Regions from separate parts of the Homo sapiens genome. Here region 2 is linked to region 1. The links come from fine-mapping of genetic effects on gene expression. A gene starts in region 1. The other region holds a variant in brackets. All regions are shown on one strand. Distances are between the middles of the regions.

Evidence for each region. PIP is the estimated chance that this variant, and not a neighbour inherited with it, causes the effect.
Region 2: its variant is fine-mapped to the expression of RBBP4 in monocytes (TOPMed, PIP 0.90).

Annotation. Positions count from the first base shown.
Region 1 is chr1:32,647,928-32,656,259 of GRCh38, forward strand. RBBP4 (RB binding protein 4, chromatin remodeling factor) reads left to right here and starts at 3,281. Exons shown (of 12, transcript NM_005610.3): 1 at 3,281-3,395; 2 at 3,987-4,134. The coding sequence starts at 3,380. It overlaps ZBTB8OS (zinc finger and BTB domain containing 8 opposite strand), which reads right to left and starts at 2,623. Exons shown (of 7, transcript NM_178547.5): 1 at 2,506-2,623. The coding sequence starts at 2,602. RefSeq lists enhancers at 1,220-1,359, 2,493-3,080, 3,081-3,669, 3,830-3,929 and a silencer at 2,960-3,529.
Region 2 is chr1:32,601,683-32,609,956 of GRCh38, forward strand. ZBTB8A (zinc finger and BTB domain containing 8A) reads left to right here. Exons shown (of 5, transcript NM_001040441.3): 5 at 1-4,259. LOC102723870 (a long non-coding RNA gene) reads right to left here. Exons shown (of 3, transcript XR_426677.5): 3 at 6,867-7,645. Among named protein-coding and RNA genes, the nearest start is that of ZBTB8OS, 45 kb to the right of the region's middle. RefSeq lists an enhancer at 4,898-5,398. The variant G/A (reference allele first, on the strand shown) is at 4,668.

The sequences.
Region 1 (8,332 bases):
GACTTCCGTGAAACCAGTCCCTAGTGCCAAAAAGGTTGGGGACCGCTGGTTAATGAACTGCATTGCATAAAAACACTTTCTGCCTAGTAAGAAAAACCAACAACCCAAGACAAAAAAAAAATAACCCAAGAGAAAAAAGGGCTAAGAATATTAACATACACACCCCAGAATGGGAAATACAAATAGCTTCCAAAACAGTATAATATGTTCAACTTCACTTACAATAAGAAAAATACAGTAAGTATACTTTACAAATTAGAAAAGATAAAAAAGTATGGTAACAATTAGTAGAAGTGGGAGGAAAGAGGCACATTCACACAATACTAGTGAAAGTATAAATTGGTACAACTCCTATAGAGAGCAATTTGGCAATAACTGTCCAAGTTAAAATATCCTTTTAAAAAATGTAGGAGTCTTAGCAATGGAAACAAAAAAAACTTGGAGAACTTGATTCTACAGATTCACTTGCACATGTACAAAACAGTGGATGTACAAGTGTATTCACTGCTGCACTGTTTCTAATACCACAAGAGTAGAAATAGCCTAAACGTCCATCAACTGAAAATTGGTTAAAGCAAATGCTAGAACATCTAGGTATGTACATGTAAGAAAAAGGTAACGATGACTGCTCTACAGAGGGGGACTAGGTAGTTGAGGATGGGGGCTGCCAGAGTTACTTTTCACTGCCTATGTTACACTTTCTGAATTTCAAATCAATATATATGACCTATTAAAAATAATTTTTTTTTGAGATGGAGTCTGGCTCTGTCGCCCAGGCTGGAGTGCAGTGGTGCAATCTCGGCTCACTGCAACCTCCGCCTCCCAGGTTCAAGCGATTCTCCTGCCTCAGCCGCCCAAGCAGCTGGGATTACAGGCACCCACCACCATGCCTAGCTAATTTTTGTATTTTTAGTAGAGATGGGGTTTCACCATGTTGGCCAGGCCAGGCTGATCTCAAGCTCCTGACCTCAGGTGATCCACCCGCCTCAACCTCCCAAAGTGCTGGGATTACAGGCGTGAGCCACAGCACCAGGCCTTTTTTTTTTTTTTTTTTTTTTTGAGACAGTCTCACTCTGTTGCCCAGGCTGGAGTGCAGTGGTGTGATCTCGGCTCACTGCAGCCTCCACCCTCCTGGGTTCAAGCAATTCTCCTGCCTCAGCCTCCCGAGTAGCTGGGATTACAGGCGCCCACCATCATGCGCAGCTAATTTTTGTATTTTTAGTAGAGACGGGGTTTCACCATGTTGGCCAGGCTGGTCTGGAACTCCTGACCTCAGGTGATCCACCCACGTCAGTCTCGCAAAGTGCTGGGATTATAAGTGTGAGCCACCGCAAACGGCCTATAATATTTTAAAATTGTTTTTAAGTGAGAGAAGGGGATATGCTAGGAGGTATGCCAGCTCCAGAAAGCACATTGCCTAGAATACTATGGTAAATAAGTAGATTTTACAGAGAGGACAATGAGAAATTAATGAAAGATTTTAAGCAGATAAATAAAAGTCAGATTTGTGCTCCCCAAACCACAGCTACCTTTAGGGATGACAGCTTAACGTTTAATATAGAATTTAAGAGACAAAGATAGGTTATGTGATTTGCCTAAAGTCACTAAGCGAATAAATGGCAAAACCAGCTGGGCACTGCAGCGCGGGCTATGATCGCTCCATTGCACTCCAGCCTGGACGACAGAGCGAGACCCCATCTCTAAAAACACACACACACACACACACACACACACACACACATTTTTTTTTTTTTTTGAGACAGAGTTTCGCTCGTTGCCCAGGCTGGAGTGCAATGGGGCGATCTCGGCTCACCGCAACCTCCGCCTCCCGGGTTCAAGCGATTCTCCTGCCTCAGTCTCCCGAGTAGCTGGGATTACAGACATGCTCCACCACGCCCAGCTAATTTTGTATTTTTAGTAGAGACGGGGTTTTTCCATGTTGGTCAGGCTGATCTCGAACTTCCGACCTCAGGTGATCCGCCCGCCTCGGCCTCCCAAAGTGCTGGGATCACAGGCCTCAGCCACCGAGCCCGGCCTAAAATAATCATTTTTAAAAATCACAATCATAAATGGCAAAACCAGGTTTTTTGCTAATATGATCGAGGTGAAACATCAAGTTAGAAATCCCCTAATTAGCTTTCCGAGTCCTCTAACCTCGCACACTCTAATCTCACCGTTGGGAAATACATGGGGGTAACAACCCTGCAAACGCCTGAAAATATGGTTATCTTTAGAATTTACGAAGATAAATGTGATTAGGCACATGTGGAAGAAGTTCAAGAGACTGTAAATGAGGGAGGCCAGGTTTCGCGACTATTAAACCAGGTGGCTTTTTCCTTCAGCATCCCCAGGAGAAGTACGAACGCGACTACAACAGCCGGCACAAATGGGATCATGCCTGAAGTACCCATGGGGCACAGTAGAAAGAGCAGCAGGAAGCCGCGGGTAAGGAGAGGGGATGCCTGTGTGCTTACATGTAAAGAGAGAAGTAAGCCACCTACTCACACTCGTACTTCCTATTGACTGGCGGATACTTGGCCTTGATCGCCTTCTGTTCTTCAGTCAAATTGTAATCTCTAACATCTTCCTCTTCCTGCGCCATGACTGCAGGATTAGACACTCTACTTCCGCCCTTCATCCACCGGACTTCGGCCCGGAGTTACTACTTCCGCTCTAGACTCCGCCCCTTGGCGCACACCCTTAAAGGACCACACTCCTTTCTCGGAGTTGGCTGTTGACCTACTTTAGTCCCTACCCTGCCGCTTGGATCGCATATTTAAAAAGCCAAAACCCCATCTTCTGCGATTCCTTCATTACTAGTTCTTTCCAAAGACTAAGGAAAAACGTTGAAGGGCACCTTGAATGAAACCCGTCTGGGTCTGACTGGCGAGGTTCTTTCCCCCGCTTCACCCCCAAAATTGATAACTAGACCCGAAGGCATTCTAGATTTTTCATCTCAGTACTCTGAAAGGGTCGTAAGCTTAATAGCCTTCAAGAAAATGGCTGCCCTCTTGCCGCGGGAGTGTGCGGACCAAACCTCTCTCACGTGACCCTGACCGGGCGCAGTCCCGTCAACGCCGGCGCGCGCAATCGCTGGAAGTCGGCTCGGGGAGGCGTGGGGGGAGGGGCGGAGCGCGCGCCTCGGTCCCCGCGGAAAGCTACTCCGCGCGTCTGGATTGGTCGCGAACGCGGCTTCCCCGCCCATCCCGCCATTAGGAGCGCTCCCATTGGCTGATGTTGGCGCGAAGGTGCGCGAGTCAGCCCTCGCGCTGGGGGCGCAGGAAACAATAGAGGCCGCGCGCACAGAGCGAGCTCTTGCAGCCTCCCCGCCCCTCCCGCAACGCTCGACCCCAGGATTCCCCCGGCTCGCCTGCCCGCCATGGCCGACAAGGAAGGTGAGGGTGCCGGGGCCGACCCAGGAGGGCAGTGGGTGCCTGGGCTGAGCCGCGGCCTCGACATGGCCTAACAGTGAGGGCAGGCCCGAGTTTGCCGAGTGCAGTCCCCGGTACTGAAGGCGTGAAGAGGGAACTCCCCGCGGGGCGTGCTAACGGCTCGCCAGTTCCCTGGGACCGATTTCGGTCGCAGCTGGCGAAGCCAGCGGTGGGGCCCCCGGCCAGTGTTTGTTTCTCTTCCTGCCTCCGATATCGGTTTCTCGGCCTCTGTCCCGAGCGTGGGGACACCGCTTCCTACCCACAAGGCTCGGAGCTCGGGCCTCCTCGTCGGGCTTGTGAGTTTCGGCGCGCACGAGCGTGCTCCGAAGGCCTGGCTGGCCCCTTGGCCTGGAACGGGTAACGGAGTGTTTGGCGGGGATGGCCCGAGGAGTTTCGGCGCCGCGAAAGTGGAGAGTGTGGATGCCTCTGCCGTGGGGATTTAGACAAATCACCTCCATTTCATGGTTAGGCTGTAGGAGTCATGCAGGTGGCTTTGCAGAGGATTACTCGGTTTCCGTTTGTTTGCTAACTTAAATTTGTTTTTAAAAATTTTAGCAGCCTTCGACGACGCAGTGGAAGAACGAGTGATCAACGAGGAATACAAAATATGGAAAAAGAACACCCCTTTTCTTTATGATTTGGTGATGACCCATGCTCTGGAGTGGCCCAGCCTAACTGCCCAGTGGCTTCCAGATGTAACCAGGTGACATGACTCTCCCGAACGTTATTTTGATGTATTTTCAGTGTAGATTTCTCATATTGATTTTCTTTTTTCCGCTCTTCAGTCACCCGGAGAAGGCATGTGATCAAAACCTCTTGGTGACATTTTTTCTAGGCCACAAAGTAAGGCAAAATAACAAAATGATTTTGTAACTTACCTGACAAGAGAAAACATATTGGCGTTTTTTTCTCAATACTGAATTAAATAGCTGTAGCTGATGATAATACCTGTAATAATAGTGGCTGTACCAAATAATAGTACAAAACTTGTCAACTTTCAAAAAGTATTATGGCCAGGAGCAGTGGCTCACACTTGGAATCCGAGCACTTTGGGAGGCCCAGGCAGGAGACTTACTTGAGGCCAGGAGTTGGAGACCAGCCCTGGGAATACCCTCGTCTCTACTGCCCCCCACACAAAAAAAGAAAAAAGTATTACAATGAGTCTAGTCCTTACAACAAAAATTTTTTGTTTTTCTTTTTGAGACGGTGTCTCACTCTGTTGTCCAGGCTGGAGTGCAGTGGCGCGAGCTCGACTCACTGCAACCTCTGCCTCCCAGATTCGAGCGATTCTCCTGCCTAAGCCCTCCCAAGTAGCTGGGATTACAGGCACCTGCCACCACGCCTGGCTAAATTTTTTTGTATTTTTAGTAGAGACGGGGTTTTACCATGTGGGACAGGCTGGTCTCCAACCCCCTGACCTCTGGTGATCCGCCCGCCTCTGCCTCCCAAAGTGCCGGGATTACAGGCGTGAGCCACTGCACCTGGCCTCAACAAAACTTAATTTGAATTCTCGTAGTATGTCATGGTACCTGCCTTCAAGGAGCACATTGTCTAGTTGAAGTGGCAGATATAAACTAATAATTATAGTTATATATGGTGACAGCAGTTGTAGAGAGATAATTAGGGTACCTAGAAAACACCTGAAGGTGGAATGGCTTTCTTATAAGGGGTTTGGGCATAGTGAGGGCTAAAAGATTAATCCTATGTTTCTTACGTGTAGGTAGCTTATCTCTAGTAGAGGGGATAAAATAGCTTGCATTTATTGGGGCTGTATTTGGTGCTACATATCGGGGATCCAAATTAGTTATAATTAGCATAAAAGTGGTACAGATAAAATTATCAGAGGAAGGAAAATTTGCCTCAATTTGCCTCATTTCTTAGGAAGAAATGACAATGCAAAAAACAAAGAGGAGGGTAAATTTAGATGATATTAACATAGTTTTAACAAGACCATTGTGCCATTTGGAATAATGGATTTTCTGGTACAAAAGTAAGTTTTCTGAATTACATTCAAAAGCGATTGTATGCTAAGTAAATTCCTTCAAAACTTGGATCTTTAAAAGTTAAGATAATTGCAAAATGTTATTAGACTATGATGTAGCTCAACAAATGATAGAAATTTGGCAGAAATTATACTAGTAACTTAAGAATGAGGCTGCTACCTTTACAGTGGCATAAGGAAAAATAGGGAAATGTGTCCTAGGGATGTTACACAAAACCATAGTAAAAACCTAGAAATTGGGAGTTAGAAGCTGCTTTGTGTGTTTTTTGTTTTCTGGTTTTTTTTTTTTTTTTTTTTTTGTTTTTGTTTTTTTTTTTGAGACGGAGTCTCCTCTCTTGCCCAGGCTGGAGTGCAGTCACGTGATCTCCGCTGACTGCAAGCTCCGCCTCCCGGGTTCACGCCATTTTCCTGCCTCAGCTTCCCAAGTAGCTGGGACTACAGGTGCCGGCCACTACCCCTGGCTAATTTTTTGTATTTTTAGTAGAGCCGGGGTTTCACCGTGTTAGCCAGGATGGTCTCAATCTCCTGACCTCATGATCCACCCGCCTCGGCCTTCCAAAGTGCTGGGATTACAGGCGTGAGCCACCGCGCCCGGCCTAGAAGCTTCTTTATCATGACCAGGAGTTCCCACATGCAATTGATCATCAGAATTGCTTGGGGAATTCAGGATAATTGGAATCATTTCTGTCAAGAGTTTTCAGTGGTAATTCAAACCATTTAGGAACTTATGGGCTGGTCATGGTGGCTCACACGTGTAATCCCAGCACTTTGGGAGGCTGAGGCAGGCAGATTGCTTGAGGCCAGGAGTTCCAGACCAGCCTGGGCAACATGGTGAAAAGCCCGTCTCTACTAAAATTACAAATATTATCCGGGCATGGTGGTGCGTACCTGTTAGTCCCAGCTCCTCAGTGGGGGCTGAGGCAGGAGGATCACCTGAGCCTTGGGAGGTCAAGGCTGCATTGAGCTGTGATCCTGCTACTGCACTCCAGCCTGAGCTAGGGATTGCCACCCTGTCTCAAAGAAAAAGAACTTGTGGCAGAGTACTTAATGAGAAGTGTACTGGAATGGTGATTCCACATTTACTATAGTCATATGCTAAATTGTGCTTATTGGACTAGTGGATCACAAATATTGGCCATCCCATACCTACTAAACATTCTAGAACCCCTACTTTTCAGAAACTTCCCAAGTAATATAATAGAATGACTAGCTAGGTTTCGAAAGCAAGAATTAAAGACTTAATTCCCCAAGGCTGAAATCTGTACTGTCATCTTAGTAGTTTTCTGCATTAGCAAATCTAGATAAATAATGTGAGAATTGTTTTTTGTTGTTGTTGTTGTTTTGAGACGGAGGACGGAGTTTCACTCTTGTTACTCATACTGGAGTGCAGTGGCATGATCTGAGCTCACTGCAACCTCCGCCTCCTGGGTTCAATCGATTCTCCTGCCCCAGCCTCCCAAGTAGCTGGGATTACAGGCACCCGCCACCACGCCCAGCTAATTTTTTGTATTTTTAGTAGAGATGGGGTTTCACCATGTTGTCCAGGCTGGTCTTGAACTCCTGACCTCAGGTAATCCACCCGCTTCGGCCTCCCAAAGTGCTGGGATTACAGGCGTGAGCTAGTGCACCTGGCTGAAAATTGTTTTTGAGACAGGATCTTGCTTTGTTGCCCAGACTGTGTTGCAGTGGCACGATCAGAGTTCCCTGCAGCCTTGACCTCCTGGGCCAAGGAATCCTCCTGCCTCAGCCTCTGGAATAGTTGGGGCTACAGGCACACGCTACCATACCTGGCTAATTTTTGAAAAATTTTTTTGCTATGTTGTCCAGACTGTTCTTTAACTTCTGGGCTCCAGTGATCCTCCCACTTTGACCTCCCAAAGTGCTGGGATTACAGACATGAGCCACCGTGCCTGGCCCTGTTTTTGTTTTTTAAGATGAGGATTACTTACAAGCAAGCAGCCCTGATGCAGTGTTTACTTTTGTGTGTGTTCTTTTTCTGGTGTTTACCCAGATCCGTTTCCCCCCTTTAAAAAGAAAGAAAAACCACGGTTGTAGTTCTGTAACACTGTCCTCTCCTTCATTCTTTTTCTGGTTCTTGTCTAACCTTCTACATACAGGTAATTCCAATTTTCTGTTCATATCTCTCTTCATTTCTTTTCAGTGTAATGTAGAAGCTCTCAGAGCTTTGCCTGTGACATCTGTGCAGAAGAATTCCTATTGATATCTTTAGACCTCACTTCTCCAGAGCTTTTCCTGATTTTTCTTCTGCCTGCCCGTGTCTTCCCTGGTATATCTTACTGGCTTCCCCAGTTTGACATGTTGTAAATGGAATTATTCCTTACGTGAAGGCCTTACCCCAACTTTCTCTCCTGTTGTTCCTATTTCTTTTCATCATAATTGGCTTTAGTTTGACATTTTCTCTTTCTCCATTTTATAGGCAGTCAATTTATAAACCCCAATGAATTCTGGTTGTGTAGCATCTTTCCCATCTAGGCCAGGGGTTCTCAAAATTTTATATGCATCATAATCAGCTGGAGGTACTGTGAAACAGTTAGTTGTGCCCCACCTTCTAGAGTTTCTGATTCAATGGGTCTGGAGTAGATGTGAGAATTTGCGTTTCTAACAAGTTCCCAGATGATGTGGATGCCCTTGACCCAGTATGGAGTACAGAATGCCTTAAGACGGCATTCAGAACACTAAATAGTCAGTTTTAATCGGCCTTCTCTCCCACTGTGCTTTCCCATATCAGAAGTCAGATTTGGACTTCAGCATACTTGTTACTTAGTAGCTGTGTGATCTTAGGCAAATTGTTTAATTTTCTTTCTTTTATTTATTTTTTTCTTTTTTGAGACAGGAAGTAGTCTTTCTCTGTCACCCAGGCTGGAGTGCAGTAACACGA
Region 2 (8,274 bases), 46 kb before region 1:
TCTTTCAGCCTTCTCTCCCTGTATGTCTCCTGAAATGGCAAAGAATAGAAGTCAAACCTCACCAGTTGGCAGTCATTATAAAAATAAGCCAATCAGAATTAGAAAGTATGAAAGGAGGAATTGAATCATTTTCAACAACATACAATATCTTGATCTAGAGATTTTCAAATAATGCTAAGTAATGTCCCTACAGTACCTATTGGTATGTTTTTATGTCACGTTATTTATATGTAAATTTAAAGTATAAAACTATTTGAACAAATTATTCACTTAAATATGTTGAACATTTTTGCTTCTCTTGTTTATATAATATTTTCAAAACAAACTTTTCTCCTAGTATACAAAGTTTAAACTTCTCCCCTTTGGGCTGGGCCCAGTGGCTCACGCCTGTAATCCCAGCACTTTGGGAGGCTGAGGCAGGTGGATCACCGAGGTCGGGAGTTTGAGACCAGCCTGACCAACATGGAGAAACCCCGTCTCTACTAAAAATACAAAATTAGCCGGGCGTGGTGGTGCATGCCTGTAATCCCAGCTACTCAGAAGGCTGAGGCAGGAGGATAGCTTGAACCCAGGAGGCAGAGGCTGCGGTGGGCTGAGGTTGCGCCATTGCACTCCAGCCTGGGCAACAAGAGCGAAACTCCGTCTCAAAAAAAAAAAAAAAAAAAACTTCTCCCCTGCATAAATTATGAAACATTCCAAAATTACAGCTAAATTAGAGAAGCATTGTTTCAGTTCTAAAGGTAAAATCTAAATATCCGAAGTAAAGAACTGAGCTTCATAAAGGTCTCTTCTGCAAGTTATCACAGTGAAGCTTGATAGAATTTCACTGTATATGGAGAGGCTCCATCTATTTTACTGTTTTCTTTTTTGTTTTTGTTTTTTTTTCGAGACGGAGTCTCGCTCTGTCGCCCAGGCTGGAGTGCAGTGGTGCAATCTCAGCTCACTGCAAGCTCCACCTCCCGGGTTCTCGCCATTCTCCTGCCTCAGCCTCCCGAGTAGCTGGGACTTACAGGCGCCCACCACCACTCCCAGCTAATTTTTTGTATTTTTAATAGAGATGGGGTTTCACCGTGTTAGCCAGGATGGTCTCAATCTCCTGATCTCGTGATCCGCCCCCCTCGGCCTCCCAAAGTGCTGGGATTACAGGCGTGAGCCACTGCGCCCAGCCAATTTTACTGTATTTTTAAATGCCATGACATACCTCAAAATTATCCTTTTTATGTTACTATTTTCTCTTGTTCTTTCATTAATTATTGTCCTTGATACCAATTTCTAGGCTAAATTGGTTACTTTCTTTTAAAAAATTTAAAAATAGATGAATAACCACTTGTTTCATGGTACTTAATTGAGACTTTTTCAAGATTCCCCTGATGGCACATTTGCAGTTGCTTCAAGACTGGATGATGTGCATTGAGTTCTCTGTTCTCCCAACATGGCTGTTCCTAAATCAGGATTCTGGTTTTTTTGAGATGGACTCTCGCTCTGTTGTCCAAGCTGGAGTGCAGTGGCGTGATCTCGCTCACCACAACCTCTGCCTCCCGGGTTCAAGCGATTCTCCTGCCTCAGCCTCCTGAGTAGCCGGGACTACAGGCATGTGCCACCATGCCTGGCTAATTTTTGTATTTTTAGTAGAGACAGGGTTTCGCTATGTTGGCCAGGCTGGTCTCGAACTCCTGACCTCGTGATCTGCCCGCCTCAGCCTCCCAAAGTGCTGGGATTACAGGCGTGAGCCAGCACGCCCGGCCTAAATCAGGATTCTTAACAATTAAAGTGTATCTGAATGAGGAAGGAAACGCTTGTCATTCTCTAGTCTTACCCAATTAATACTGACACCTTTTGAAATTAAAACCTGATTTTTTAGTTGTTGGAGCCAGTAGGAAAAATGGCTGATTTGAACTTTTTTCCTATAAATGAAGTAGTGCTTGCATGTGTGTACTCTAATGCACTTTAGTCTATGATCTAAATGTCCTTTTATGCTATTATCTTCTGCATGCAAACTTTACATACATCAGCATGAATATCCAACATTCACTGAACACAGTGCCACCAGCACTTGTAATTGCCTTTTCAGAAATAATGCTTTCTCATAATTGTTTATAACGAGCATCAAACTATCCCCACAAAATGATCAAGTTCACCAAACTAGACAAAGAATCTGTTGTATCATTTTAACATCATAGAAGAACATTTAAGACATGTTTGTAAGTTGTAAATAATGACTCCAGTTATAGCATATATATCTAAGACGTTAGAGACCAGTTATTTTCTAGAGTGAAACTGTCTATTGATGATTGAGAAAATTGAATTCTTTGGTTTTTACATGTGGGCAAATGTTACATAGGGGTATAATCTGTTTAAATAAGCTTTATTTATGCCAAGGATTTTTTTTTTAATATCAAGACTTGGTTAGACCAAAGTTTGCTCTTGCAGGAATGCCATTTATCAGCTTCTGAATGCCCTTCTAACTCCATTACCCTCAAGAGTGTCTGGGTATAGGATGAAGCATTACAAAAAGAAAGCACCACTGCAGTCATGCCTAGTGTCTGGGAGAAACAAAATGGACTAGACCTGCAGTTTAAAATAATTTAACCCGAGAAACTCTTCAAATGAATTGTTTCCTAAAGATGCTCAAATTTAAGGGATAAACTCTAAAATCAGAGCTGCTGTGGTTAAAGTCCCCCACAAACCTTTCCCCAGACACCTCTGCAGAACTCAGGTGCACAATGTTGAAAACCATGGAATTAGACAACTTCCTGAATTCCCTTTGAGCCTTGCAGCCTCATTTCGTTACTCCTGTTACTCACGGTGCTTATAAGCAGGTAACCATATGGTCTCTTAGTGAAGCAAATCACATCCTTAGCACATGATGTTCCTTCTATGGGTATCAGATCTTAAGACTTTTTAAAATTTAGGAACAAATGTTTCAATATTATATTTTCAGTAATGCAATCAAAATAAGCATAGTTACTGTTTTCTGTACGGCTAAGTACTGCCTAATGGATGAAAGAAGTTTGGTGCTTCAATTATTTATGAGCTCAGAACTCAATTCATTAAAGTTATTTTGCCAAGTCATGCCAAGATATATTGAAATTTCCACTCATATTGGTTTTTAAAATTTTTTTTAGTCCTAAAATTAATAAGTATGGAAAATCACTAAAAGCAGTGTAGGATAAGGTGTGTTTAACTGGCCGGGCACGGTGGCTCATGCCTGTAATCCTAGCACTTTGGGAGGCCGAGGCGGGCGGATCACTTAAGGCCAGGTGTTCGAGACCATCCTGGCCAACATGGTGAAACCCCGTCTCTAGTAAAAATACAAAAAATAGCTGGGCATGATGGTGGGTGCCTGTAATCCCAGGTACTCGGGAGGCTGAGGCAGGAGAATCGCTTGAACCCGGGAGGTGGAGGTTGCAGTGGCCGAGATCGCACCACTGCACTCCAGCCTGGGTGACAGAGCGAGACTCCATCAAAAAAAAAAAAAAAAAAAAAAAAGATGTGTTTAACTGGGAAGGGTGATAATAATAGAATAATAGGTACAGGAGGACCAAACTTTAGATTATAAACCAGAAAGTTTTGTTATTTTATATAAGTGTATCAGTATTACTATTTATCATTTATATAGCATTTTATATTTGCAAAGTGTTTAATAATTTTTGTTATTCTTTACATATATATGAAATAGGACAGTTATCCCACATGAACGGTAAATAAATTGAGGCACAGAACAGTAAAAAAACCTCAGGGTCAGGCGTGGTGGCTCACACCTGTAATCCCAGCACTTTGGGAGGCCAAGGCGGGTGGATCACTTTAGGTCAAGAGTTGGAGACCAGCCTGGGGCAATATAGTGAAACCCCTTCTCTACTAAAAATACAAAAATTAGCCAGGCATGGTGGTGGGCACCTGTAATCCCAGCTACTCTGGGGGCTGAGACAGGAGAATTGCTTGAACTCAGGAGGCGGAGGTTGCAGTGAGCCAAGATCACGCTACTGCACTCCAGGCTGGGTGACAGAGCGAGACTCCACCTCAAAAAAAAAAAAAAAAAAAAAAAAAAGAACCTAAGACAACCCAGTGAAATGGTAGCAAAAAATAGGAAATATAATGATCACATTTTCTGAATCCTAGACCATCAGCCTAATTCACTGAGGTGTGTTGTGTATCACTCTATTTTATAGATGATTTTATATAAGTAACAGTGGATTGTTTTAAAGCTGACGTCATTGTATGTGGATACATTCTATATGGAATAAATGTTATGTAAAGGATGTGACTTTAGTTATGTCACAGGATCCTTAGGGTGTTGCTTTGCCACCAGCCAGAAACCTCTTGGCCGGTGGCTCCTCTGCTTGGGTTTTGCTTGTGCCTGCTGGGCTCATTCCACCCATGTGGACTGGCAGGCTGTGGTCCACTGGTGGTACCAGCCTGGATCTCATGCCTGCCGAGGGTGAGCCAGGCACGGAGTGACGGGTGTGTGAGTGAGCTAGCGTGGGGTCCGGCCACTGCACACAACCAGGCACACTGGCTGCAGTGGGGTGGACAGCTCTAGGCGCTGGCACAGGCACCAGCTCCATGCCAGGCTGCAGCGGGACCAGACGTACTGAAAGCGGCTTCCGCTGCGGGCATCAGCATTTGGACAAGTGGAACGCAGTGGTGCCCGAAAGCTCAGAGATGCC[G/A]GGAACTGCAGACCCCCAAAGAGGGTGTTACAGCATGTCACACCATGGCTCAGGGAGCCCCGAGGTCTGGGCTGCCAGAAGGGCTGCAGCTCTTCTCTCCTTCTCGTCGCCCACAACGTGGTGAGCAGGGAGCATGTTTCAGCCCTGCTTGTGTTACAGCTCTTTCAGTCCACCATTTGGTGGGTCCCGAGTTCTTTTCCTGCATCCGAGAAGAATGAGGTACGCAGACAACTGGAGGGTGAGCAAGGCCGAAAGGAGCTTCACTGAGCAACAGAACAGCTCTCAGGAGACCTGAAGTGGGTAGCTCCTTTCCACAGGGCAGAGAGGAGCTTCACTCTGCAACAGAACAGCTCTCAGGAGACCCGAAGTGGATAGCTCCTTTCCACAGGCAGGTCGACCTGATGAGTGTCCAGATGACCAGCTCTCACCCAAGAGGAGACCTGCAGGCAGGTCCTTTTAAGGAGACTCAAAGCGGGTAGCTCCTTCCTGCAGCTGGTAGTCCTGACAGCCGGCTGAGTCTGCTGAGACCAGGGGTTTTTATGGGCTCAGAAGGGAGGAAGTGCATGCTGCTTGGTCTGTGGGTGTCCATGGGCAGCCCAGAAAACACCACAAGTTCTTACTCTAGCCCTGGACTCCACCAGGAACTGCCAGACCAACCCCCAGGCTTCAGGCATTCCCTGGCTTGAAGGGGGGATTTCACTGGGAACCCACCCTTTTCCACCCAGGAACCTGTCTGCCTCCTGCCATCAACATGCCCTCCATGGTGCCCAGACTGTGCCAAGGGGCGCCTGCAGGCCCAAACCAAGCCACCGTCATCAACCCCCTGACTGGCTTCCCTCCCACGCACATGGGTGCCCAAAGTTTAGAGGGGGCTGAGGTGGCAGGGGGCTGGCGTGTCAGTGCCACCTCTAGCATGCTCAACCTGGCCAGGTCACGACAACACCTAGGTTTGGCCCAACTTTGCTCTGCAACAGAGCAGGTGCAGGAGCAGAAAGAGGCCAGGGAATGGGAGCAGGCACTTCTGAGCCTGTGGGCGCTGGGAGCTTCCCAAGCCCTGAAGAGTGCAGGGATGCCCAGGTCTGGAGCCGCAGCTGGGCGGCTGCAGCTGTGCCCAGAAGTGTGGGACTCCAGCCCTGCCGATTCAGTAGGGGCAGGGCTCCTGCCTGTAGCCAGCCCCTGTGGGCTTCGTGGAGCCGTGAGCCTCAGCTGCGTTTCCCTCACTGCAGCTGGCATCGCAGCAGCGGCTGTTACAGACGGGCCACTGGTGCCTTTAGTTACAAGAGTTTTAATGATAAAATTCAAGTTATCACAGAAATGGTAGTATATAGCCAGCTGTTTTATATATTGTGAAGTATAAGTAACATATAATTTTGATACAGGAGTTTCTTAACTATTCCTGCTAATGGACCTATGAATAGGCCAGAAAAATGAAATCCACCGAGAATCTGTAAACTTCATTTTCACGTCAGCCTTCTCCCCACAGAACTGTATTAATGCCACCAAAAAAGTAAAATATTTAAATATAATGTTAACAAGTAATGAACCACACAGCAATAGAAGCAAAGGGACTCTTGAAGTCAAAATATCTTGAAGTCAAAATATTTTGCAATTACTGAAATAGTATAACACTTTTCCCTACTCTTTCTTTTTTTTTTTTTTTCTTCAAACCATCAAAATCCGTTGCATACTTTCTCACCTTTAAATAGGAAACCAGAGGCTGGGTACAGTGGCTCACACCTGTAATCCCAGAATTTTGGGAGGCCGAGGTGGTCGGATCATTTGAGGCTAGGAGTTCAAGACCAGCCTGGCCAACATGGTAAAACCCCATCTCTATAAAAAATACAAAAATTAGCCTGGCGTGGTGCCGCATGCCTGTAATCCCAGCTACTCAGGAGGCCGAGGCACAATAATTGCTTGAACCTAGGAGGTGGAGGTTGCAGTGAGCTGAGATCACGCCACTGCACTCCAGCCTGGGTGACAGAGCAAGACTGTCTCAAAAAGAAAAAAGGAAACCAGAGACCAGGGAAATACCCTTTACCTTTACCTTTGCGCTTAGCTAGATCATTTGCAAGCAGAATTTTATACTTTGCCTGCTTTGCTCTTTCAGATTTCCAGATACACAATTCCATTATATAGTTTCTTGATTTTCCCCTTGGGAAAATCATTTATTTCCTTGTTGATATTACTTACAACTACTTATTTTCTTTATTAAAGAGAAACTTATTTTTATTCAGCCCATAAGGGAAAAAGGGAACAACATTTCTGCCTAGACCAGAGATCCTCAACTTTGGTTGCACATTAGAATCACCTGTGGATCTTTTAAAATACAGATGCCTAGGCAAATCAGAATCTCGGGCAGGTGGGGCTTGGGTGTAAGTATTTTTGCAAGCTAGGCTGGCTGGGCACGGTGGCTCACACCTGTAATTCCAGCACTTTGGGAGGCCAAGGCGGGTGGATCAGGAGGTCAAGAGATCGAGACCATCCCGGCCAACATGGTGAAACCCCATCTCTACTAAAAATACAAAAATTAGCTGGGTGTGGTGGCGCATGCCTGTAGTCCCAGCTACTCAGGAGGCTGAGGCAGGAGAATCGCTTGAACCCGGGAGGCGGAGTTTGCAGTGAGCTGAGATTGCGCCACTGCACTCCAGCCTGGCGACAGAACGAGACTCCGTCTGAAAAAAAAAAACCTAGGCTGGATACAGTGGCTCATGCCTGTAATCCCAACACTTTGGGAGACAGAGGTAGGAGGATTGCTTGAGCCTAGGAGTTTGAGACCAGCCTGGGCAACATAACAAGTCGCAGTCTCTACAAAAAATTTAAAAATTAGGTGGGCGTGGTGGCACATGCCTGTAGTCTCAGTTACTCAGGAGGCTCGGGTGGGAGGATCACTTGAGCCTTAGGATCACTGAGTGAAGGATGCAGTGAGCTATGATGGTGCCACTGCACTTCAGCCTGGACGATACAGCAAGATCTTGGCTCTAAAAATAAAAATAAATAAATAAATAAATAAATAAATAAATAAATAAATAAAAGCTTCCCAAAGTTTGTGACATGCAAAATAGGGCCCATTCAAGGTTTCCCTCTGTCCTCCCCATATAGATGCCAAGGAGAGGCAGTAGGACTATTTGACCTTACAGTCCACTGGTTCTCAACCGTATCATTAAGGAAAAATTTAAAAATAGAGGTGTCCAGTCCAGGAAAATATTTATTTTTGTAAAATTTCAAGACACACTGCATGTTCCATTATCTAAGGTTTTTAATAGAGACAAGTAATATCGACACTCTAATAAAATAATGAGTAGTCTTAAAATACCCCATTTTTATTTTGGGATGCATTTGCATTTTATTTGATTATGGGTATTGCATTCTGGGAATTCACACAGTATTTCAAACCAATAAAAGAACTATGTAATGAATACGTGACTGAAATACTACATACTGAAATTTTACAAGCTTTAATATTTTCTTTTTAAAGAAAGGAACCAGAACACTCCAAGCTCTGTAAAAGCTCAATTGCTACACTTTAGAATTCCATAAAATAATTGAATTAAGTCATTCTTTAGTTCCAGTTAAATGGAATACTAGAGAGGCAGGAAAATACTACTGT